2 linked regions of the Homo sapiens genome follow. The protein of the gene in region 2 purifies or fractionates together with the protein of the main gene of each other region. This does not show direct contact. Each region holds a gene or a part of one and is shown on either strand. Other genes may lie near its edges.

What was found.
Region 1: the proteins of LMNB1 (region 2) and CPSF7 purify together in Homo sapiens (affinity purification with mass spectrometry; one large-scale study listed by BioGRID and IntAct). This does not show direct contact.

What each region holds. Positions count from the first base shown.
Region 1 is NC_000011.10:61,416,459-61,420,802, forward strand, and holds part of CPSF7 (cleavage and polyadenylation specificity factor subunit 7), read right to left. Parts: intron 4,116-4,344; coding exon 4,012-4,115; intron 3,637-4,011; coding exon 3,491-3,636; coding exon of another isoform or gene 3,464-3,490; intron 62-3,463; coding exon 1-61.
Region 2 is NC_000005.10:126,782,934-126,788,087, forward strand, and holds part of LMNB1 (lamin-B1), read left to right. Parts: intron 1-4,374; exon of another isoform or gene 4,375-4,390; intron 4,391-5,154. UniProt on the Homo sapiens protein: Lamins are intermediate filament proteins that assemble into a filamentous meshwork, and which constitute the major components of the nuclear lamina, a fibrous layer on the nucleoplasmic side of the inner nuclear membrane.

The DNA.
Region 1 (4,344 bases), on a different chromosome or scaffold from region 2:
GGTGTGGCCCGTCCATCAGCAGAATCACTAGAATCTCGGGAATGGGCCCGTGGAGGTATTCCTATGAAGCAAAACAGAACTGATGTTACTGCCCAGGCTTTACACAAACCCACAGGACCAGTTCATCCTTCAGAAGTTATCAGACACCCTACAAAGGAAGGTGACTAAAGAGGCTGAGAAGGTAAAATCATCTACTGCCTTTTTTTTGGCTTCAGAGGTCAGAAGCAACTCAGTGAAGACATTAAATCCAAAAAACAATATCGTCCTAAATCCTGTCAAAGAATGTTTTCCATCCATAACTCCAGAAGTGCTTCAGAACAGATTTAATTTATCCTTATATGTATCTTCTATTTTTAAATGTAGAAGGATCCTGATAGCCCACGAGAAAATGACAGTGTTCACTGATGTTCAGGTGAATTGCAGTTGACTTGAAACCCCACATCTCCTGAAGAGTTCAGGACCTCTCTCCTTAAACTAATACTAGTTAACCTCTTCCTGTTGCACACTTAAAATGTTCTCTTTGCCACAGGGTGTTGGCTAGGGAATTTAAGGGAAGAGAGGGAGTGGCAGGAACTGGATGGCACTTCTATTTACATACTAAAACTAGTAATCAGGGTGAGAAAGAGACACACATGAAGACTAGACAACTGGAGGTTAAGTGAAAGATAAGAAAAATTGGGAGATACGCCAATAAAAGATCCGCCCACAGCACAAGCAGATAGCACACAGCTGACAGTAAGGATGCTTAGCAAAAGCTTGCTACAAAACATGTCTCCAATCTGGGGAACTCCCGCTACATTTCAATGGCCAAAATCCTCTACCCTTCAGGGCAGCCTAACAGGAACACCATCACCACATGCTAGTATGGTGCTGTGCACAACAGGAGCTCAGAACATGTTTTAAACAGCTGGAAGCATGGATTCTGACATTGTCAAGTCACTTGGTTAAACTTGTTCCTTCTCTCCAGTTTAACAGTCTAAGCCTGTTTATTGTGGAATCCAATAGAAGAACAAGATCACATGGCTTTGGGGGGGTCTTGGAGATAGAAAGATGCCACTGGCAGCAAGTGTGGAGGAAAGAGTGCTCCTTAAACTAGAATATGATAGTTAATCCCAGCTCCTGAGTAAAGCCTAAGGTGGAATCAATTATGTTGACAACCACCTAGATTTCTCTTACAGAACAGTGCCAGTGCTGTCTTGTTCTTCAGGTCTCAAACACATGGCAACTGGCTCTTTCCTAGAGTTCTCTCAAACTGAAGAACAAAAAGGTATAAGGCAAGTGTCATCTGACAGTTAACCACTTTCCCAGCTACTACTGTTGTCACATCTGCAAAGGTTGTTTTGTATCTATGGCTACAAGTCCCAAAAGACGCAACATTTCTATGCAGAGGAAGTCCACCAGCTTTACTTAGTGAATTAACAGAGCCCAGGTCCATCAGCATGACAGAGCAGAAAAACAGCACTCAGTTACACAATCTTTTCAGCAAAAAAAAGTAACATGAAAAGTAGCTGAGTAGAAGTAGAACGTTACCCCCAATACAGTTGTAAAATTACATACCTAAGGAAAGTCAGGGGTGAATTACAGAAAGACTCCAAAACAGAGGGGACTTGAAAATACAACTTGTCAAGGAAGAAGAGTGTGTCCTTTCTAACATGGAACAACAAGAGTTCACACCAAATCTATCTAGGCTGTCAATCTAGTTAAAAGAACAGCTGTTCCTATGCAAGAGCAAAGTGGTCCTATTTCTACCTGGAGGATACACCCAATCAATACAAGGCACTATTTTGAGAGCTGGACCTAAGCAGTGACAGAACATCAGTGATGAAACTTTGCTGTTCCTCCCACTGTAGCAAAAGAAAATAAGGGTGGTTGGCTGTCTCAGGGAAGGTCTTGCAGGGTGGCTGCACTTTATGAGGTCAGGAAAATCCAAGGTCTAGTCCTCAGGTTTCTCAGGTTCAGAAACTTGCTTCAACTGGGGTGACTAGGCCCTAGGAGACTGATTCATGCTAACCAAACTCACAAGAGACTGATTCATAAACCATAACACCAATTTATTAATTTACAATGAGAAATGTAATTGCCAAGCAGACCAGAATACTTGTGTCGGCTGGTCAGCGAATTCTCTTCCTAGTAGGAGACCCTAATTGGGAAACCAAATTAGCATCAGAAAGTGGCTTAGTGAGTACAGTCAGAATAAAGAGAGTAAGATGGACATTGGGGAAACTGTCCTCAAACTAAGGTAGTTCTGAGGTAACTTTCTTTTTTCTTTTTTTTTTTTGAGACAGAGTCTCACTCTGTCACCCAGGCTGGAAGGCAGTGGTGCAATCTCAGGTCACTGCAACCTCCACCTCCTGGATTCAAGAGATTCACCTGCCTCAGACTCCCGAGTAGCTGAGATTATAAGCATGTGCCACCATAACTGGTTAAGTTTTGTATTTTTAGTAAAGACAGGGTTTTGCCATGTTGCCCAGGCTGGTCTCGAACTCCTGACCTCAGGTATCTGCCCGCCTCAGCCTTCCAAAGCACTGGGATTACAGGTGTGAGCCACCATGCCCAGCCCCTAACTTTTTTATTTTCCCTCCAAGATGGAGTCTTGCTCTGTTGCCCAGGCTGGAGTGCAGTGGTCTGATCTCAGCTCACAGCAACCTCCGTCTCCCGGGGTCAAGCAATTCTCCTGCCTCAGTCTCCCGTGTAGCTGGGATTACAGGCATGTGTCACCCACACCCGGCTAATTTTTGTATTCTTAGTAGAGATGGGGTTTCACCATGTTGGCCAGGCTGGTCTCAAACTCTTGACCTCGTGATCCACCCACCTCGGCCTCTCAAAGTGCTGGGATTATAGGCGTGAGCCACCGCGCCCGGCCTGTAACTTTCTTTACTAATGGGATATAACTGCCAAGCAGACTAAAACATTTGGTAATCAAAAGAGCACCCTCTCCCCTGGACAATGCTGGAGAAATATTGTTCAAGTCTTATTCTCCAACACTCCTCTTGGTTGATTCCTTACAGTATCCTTCCAATCAACGTTTATGAAAAGATTATAGGCACCTTTTAGTTACATTTTAGGGTGGCTGCTTCTTGATAATTTATAGAGAGGCATGTCTTAAAAATTAAGCCCATTCACCTAATGCCAAGTTTTAGACAGAAACACAGAATTTAGAGGTGATGGAACTTTAAACATCATGTCACTAGTCCAGATGGGGAAACAGGCCCTAAGTAGTAAAGTGACTTGGCCAAGGTCACACGAGTCAGTGGCAGAACCAAACTACAACCTGAACCTACTTGACTCCCAGCACAATGCTCTTTCTTCTATATAGACCTATTCTGAGGACTACTTGTCGACCATGACACCACTCACAACCACCATCACCCTCCCCCAAACTCACCCACACTGTAGGCTAAGCCTACACCATAGAAAACAAACCCACAAACACCCCCCCCTCATACAGATGGTCTCCACGTACCCCCTCTTGGGACTCGGACACACTCACGTTTCCGAGCCTGTGCCTCAAACTGTGACAGGTTCTGCCGGGTGGCCGGCCTCACGTCCACTTTTTCTCCATTAAGAACTTTCCCTGGTAGGAGTTCCAACAATTTGTGGACAGAGTTTTCAGAGGCTACCACCACCTCAGCATACCTTAGGAAAGAAAAATTAAAAATGAATGAAATCTGTAGACAGCCAAGAGAAGAAAAAAGAAATTCTCTTCCACTTTTAGTAAAAATTGATAAAGCAAAGGACATCTTGCTAAACTAAACACACATACAGCACTAACAACAAAGAGACAGCCTAAATCTTTATTTTTTTGGAATTAAAAATCAGTATTCTTCGCCCCTTAACAGATGGATATTCTACTACACTGCAGCTAGGTCCCTTTCTAAGGCAGTTTGCCAAAACCAAGGCAGTAAGCTGGGCCAGGGGTGGGAGTGATTAAAATCCAGGGCCAAAATATAGTACAGATCTTTTATCCCAATGGTTACAAATTAAAAGGGGCTTCTCAAATCCAGACCTCACCCTTTGGACTGGCCATTTGCTCGATTCTCTGCAAATTTCAACTCCACCACATCATAGACTCCTATAGAGCGAATAACCTGGATCAGCTGCTGGTCTGTGGTCCACTGGGGCCGGCAAGATGGAAAAGGAAGAGATGTCAAGAGCTACACCCCCGCCCGCCAATGTCCCAAACCCAGGATTCTAGTCACAACTAAGTCCCCCCAGAGGAAACTCAAAAGCCTGGCAATATTTCAATTAGTGCAGACTTTTCTTATTGTCCTCACCCATACAGAATTCCAAACCCACTCACCCCCAATCTCCATCTTTAGAGATTACGAAGATTAAAACTTATTG
Region 2 (5,154 bases):
GCTCACGCCTGTAATCCTAGCACTTTGGGAGGCTGAGGTGGGAGGGTCATGAGGTCAGGAGTTCGAGACCAGCCTGACCAACACTGTGAAACCCCATCTCCATAAAAATACAAAAATCAGCCGGGCGTGGTGGTGCACGCCTGTAATCCCAGCTACTTTGGGAGGCTGAGGCAGGAGAATCTCTTGAACCCAGCAGGTGGAGGTTGTAGTGAGCCAAGATCGTACCACTGCACTCCAGCTTGGGCGACAGAGCGAGACTCTGTCTCAAAAACAAAAACAAACAAACAAAAAAACCACAAAAAACAAACCTTCATCATCCTGTGTATTACTATATCTTTTTTTAATGTACTGATTTTGCCCTATTTGAAGCAGATTGACAGTATACATCTTGGCCTTAATATAAGAGTTATCAAACTTTTATATTTTTATAACTTAAAATATAAGAGTTATAAAACTAGTTTTCTTTATAAGAGTTATAAAACTAGTTAAACTGCTTTTCATAGTTCTTTTATAACAGAGTTATGTTAAATGTTACTTTAATTTTCAAGGGAAGACTTGGAAGGACCAAACCCCTAAAAATGATTTAAAAGTCTAGGAAGCAGGTCCCAAGTAATTAAACTGTCATGACATTTCCTTCCCATGCTTTCAAAAGATGTTTGATAAAGCAAGATCTTTTGGAGTTGTTTATTTAACTTAGGGGATGAGACTAGGTAATATTTTGCATACCCAGATTCAAGGAAGTAAACAGGCAGAATGAAAGATAAAGCACTATTAAAATATGGTGGGTCTTTTCTTTTTTGTGTCTTTACACAGTTGCTGGTTATATTTATTCTTTCGTTTGTATAGATGGTGTCACCTCTGATATGTCTGAGTTAGAAATCTTCAGACTTTTTTTTTATGCCATTAGTGTAAGTCTCTTTCATGTACAAATGTTGAGAATGAGCCTCAGGTATCAGTTGAGTAATGGGACCCTGTATAGGTCCCATTATTTTTAGGATCAGGGAAGTTTTTAAAATCAGTTTTAAACCCTTTTTACAGTGTACCTCTTTGATAAGGAGATTGTGCTTTGGCTGTCATTTGATTTTTTTTTTTTTTTTTTTTTTTTTTTGAGACAGAGTTTTGCTCTCGTTGCCCAGGCTGGAGTACAGTGGTGCGATCTCAGCTCACTGCAACCTCCGCCTCCCGGGTTCAAGCAATTCTCCTGCCTCAGCCTCCCAAGTAGCTGGGATTACAGGCATGCGCCACTACACCCGGCTGATTTTGTATTTTTTTTTTAATAGACTTGGGGTTTTTCCATGTTGGTCAGGCTGGTCTGGAATTCCCAACCTTGGATGATCCGCCCGCCTTGGCCTCCCAAAGTGCGGGGATTACAGGCGTGAGCCACCGCACCTGGCCGGCTGTCATTTGAATTTTTATTATTTTATTTTATTTTATTTTTTTGAGGCAGGGTCTCGCTGTGTCGCCCAGGCTGGAGTGCAGTGGTGCGATCTCGGCTCACTGCAACCTCCGCCCCTCCAGGTTTAAGCAATTCTCTGCCTCAGCCTCCGGAGTAGCTGGGATTACAGGCACGTGCCACCACGCCCGGCTAATTTTTTGTATTTTTAGTAGAGATGGGGTTTCACCATCTTGCCCAGGCTGGTCTTGAGCTCCTGACCTCGTGATCCACCCGCCTCGGCCTCCCAAAGTGCTGGGATTACAGGCGTGAGCCACCGTGCCTGGCTTGAATTTTTTTTTTTTTTTGAGACGGAGTTTTGCTCTGTCGCCCAGGCTGGAGTGCAGTGGCGCCATCTCGGCTCACTGCAAGCTCCACCTCCCGGGTTCACGCCATTCTCCTGCCTCACTCAGCCTCCTGAGTAACTGGAACTACAGGCGCCCTCCACCACGCCGGGCTAATTTTTTTTTATATTTTTAGTAGAGGCTGGGTTTCACCGTGTTAGCCGGGATGGGCTCGATCTCCTGACCTCGTGATCCGCCCGCCTCAGCCTCCCAAAGTGCTGGGATTACAGGCGTAAGCCACTGCCCTCCGCCCGAATTTTTAAAAATTAATTTTATTATTATTATTTTTGAGACGGAGTCTTGCTGTGTCACCAGGCTGGAGTGCAGTGGCACAACCTTGGCTCACTGCAATCTCTGCCTCCCGGGTTCAAGTGATTCTGCCGCCTCAGCCTCCCAAATATCTGGGATTACAGGCACCCGCCACCATGCCCGGCTAATTTTTTTTTTTTTTAATTTCTAGTAGAAACGGGGTTTCACCATGTCGGCCAGGATCATCTCGATCTCCTGACCTCGTGATCCGCCCGCCTTGGCCTCCCAAAGTGCTGGGATTACAGGTGTGAGCCACGGTGCCCTGCCTAAAAATTAATTTTTTTTTTTTTTAATAACTGAGTCTTGCTCTGTCGCCAGGCTGGAGTGCAGTGGCACGATCTCAGCTCACTACAGCCTCTGCCTCCCGTGTTCAAGCAATTCTCCTGCCTCAGCCTCCTGATTAGCTGGGACTACAGGCACACGCCACCACGTCGGCTAATTTTTTTTTTCTTTTTCTTTTTCTTTTTTTTTTTTTGTATTTTAGTAGAGACGAGGTTTCACCAGGTTGCCCAGGCTTGTCTTGAACTCCTGAGCTCAGGCAATATCTGCCTGCCTCAGCCTCCCAAAGTGCTAGGATTACAGGTGTGAGCCACGGTGCCAGGCCAAAAATTAAATTTTTTAAACAGCAAATGTATATTCATTATAGAAAAGGAGAAAACACAAACACCAAGAAGAAAATTCTTGGTTGGGCCTTAGGTTGGGCCCAACCCTTAGGTTGGGACCAGCGGCTCATGCCTGCAATCCCAGCACTTTTGGAGGCCGAGGTGGGCGGATCACCTGAGGTCAGCAGTTCGAGACCAGCCTGGCCAACATGGCAAAACCCTGTATCTACTAAAAATACAAAAATTAGCCGGGCATGGTGGTGGGCACCTGTAATTCTAGCTACTTAGGAGGCTGAGGCAGGAGAACTGCTTGAACCTGGGAGGCAGAGGTTGCAGTGAGCCGAGATCGTGCCACTGCACTCCAGCCTGAGTGACAAAGCAAGACTCCCTTTGGGGGGTGGGGGAAAAGATGCAGGAAAAAAAAAAGCTGACATTTATTTTGTGCCAATTCTGTTTGCCAGGCATTACAGTAGATGCTTTACAGACATTATCTTTTTTTTTTTTTTTTTTTTGATGCAGAGTCTGGCTCTGTCGCCCAGGCTGGAGTCCTGGAGTGCAGTGGCACGATCTCGGTTCACTGCAGGCTCCATCTCTTGAGTTCACGCCATTCTCCTGCCTCAGCCTCCCAAGTAGCTGGGACTACAGGTGCCCGCCACTACGCCCGGCTAATTTTTTGTATTTTTTAGTAGAGACGGGGTTTCACTGTTAGCCAGGATGGTCTCGATCTCCTGACCTCGTGATCCTCCTGCCTTGGCCTCCCAGAGTGCTGGGATTACAGGCGTGAGCCACCGTTCCCGGCCAGACATTATCTTTTAAGCTCATGATAACTGCTGATGAGTAAGGAAACTTCAGGCTCAGAGAGTTTAAGTATTTTGCCTGGTATTACTTAGCAAGTAATGAAAGCTAGAAAGGATGGTAGCCTGACTTCTAGCATTGTGATAGGGTGTTCACATACATAACCTTATTTCATCCATACAACAGTGTTCTACAGGTATTACTCTGGTTTACCGACATGTAGCAGGCTCACAGAGCATCATTATCTGTGGTTGGTACTTGAAGTCTCAGATAGGATAGTTGATTTTCAGATCCCTTTGGGTGCTACTTTTGGAAATGCTACTAGTTGCATGTTTTTCACGTTGATAGTTTGTAGCCTTCAAGGGAGGTAATTTTGGATTTGTCAGAAGGGTAGTGGTCAGTAGTTGAAACAGCTGTTTGAAATACTGAGGGCTTCATTTGCTAAAGAAAGGTGAAGATGAATTACTGAAAGAGATCGCTTTTATCTTTTTTCTCTTCTTAAAAAGCTACTTTCCAACTTTATTCCATGCCTTAATAATTTAAAAGAAATTAAAACCTCTAAATAAATCTTTAATACTCATGACAGGGTGTTCTTTCATTCTTTATTCAAGACACATTTTTGTGGAACAGGTACTATATGCCAGGTCTTGAACCAGATGCTGGGAATAGAGAAATGGGATACTCAGTCCCCATTATCAAGTTACTTACAGTCTAGTGGGGAAGACAGAAAACCAACACTACAGGATTGTGATACTGTAAGTGCAGTATACTAATAAAATATATTAAGTGCTGTGATGCCAGTATCCAGGTGTTGCTGTGGAGAAACAAGGACCGCTACCTAAGGCAGGCTAGGAGCCGTGTGAAATTTTGAAAGACATCCCAGGGGAATCTGAGCTAAGTGCAGGGAGGTAAGTAGGGATTTGCTTCTAAATGGAAAATGGAGAGTGAGTTGTCCTGAATGTCAAATAATTTATATAACTGGAGCCATATATATGTGTATGTGTGTGTATATATACATCTTATATGTATATGTTATATATAACATATACTTTATGTATATGTTACTTATATATGAAGTATATGTTATATATAACGTGTGTGTGTGGGGGTATATATATATATATATATATATTTTTTTTTTTTTTTTTTGAGATAGAGTTTCACTCCTGTTGTTGCCCAGGCTGGAGTGCAATGGTGTGGTCTCGGCTCACTGCAAGCTCCACCTCCTGGGTTCAAATGATTCTTCTGCCTCAGCGTCCCAAGTAGCTGGGATTACAGCCGCCTGCCACCACACTCGGCTAATTTTTGAATTTTTAGTAGAGACAGGGTTTCAGTATGTTTGCCAGGCTGGTCATGAACTCCTGACCTCAGGTGATCCACCCACCTCGGCCTCCCAAAGTGCTGGGATTACAGGTGTGAGCCACTGCACCTGGCCTACTGGAGCCATATATATATTTAATACATGGGGTGGGGAAGGGGATTGTATTTTTAGTAATGAGTGGACCCAAGATTTTAAGGCAGAATTGTGACATGATCATTCTGGCTATGCTGTGGAGGGAAAAAAAGAGGAGAGGTACAAACACTAGTAAGAACACTTGGGGAGTAACAAGGCAGCCCTTGAACTGAGGCAGGTGGAAGAAAGGAGAGAAGGTGGATTTAAGAGATACTGAAC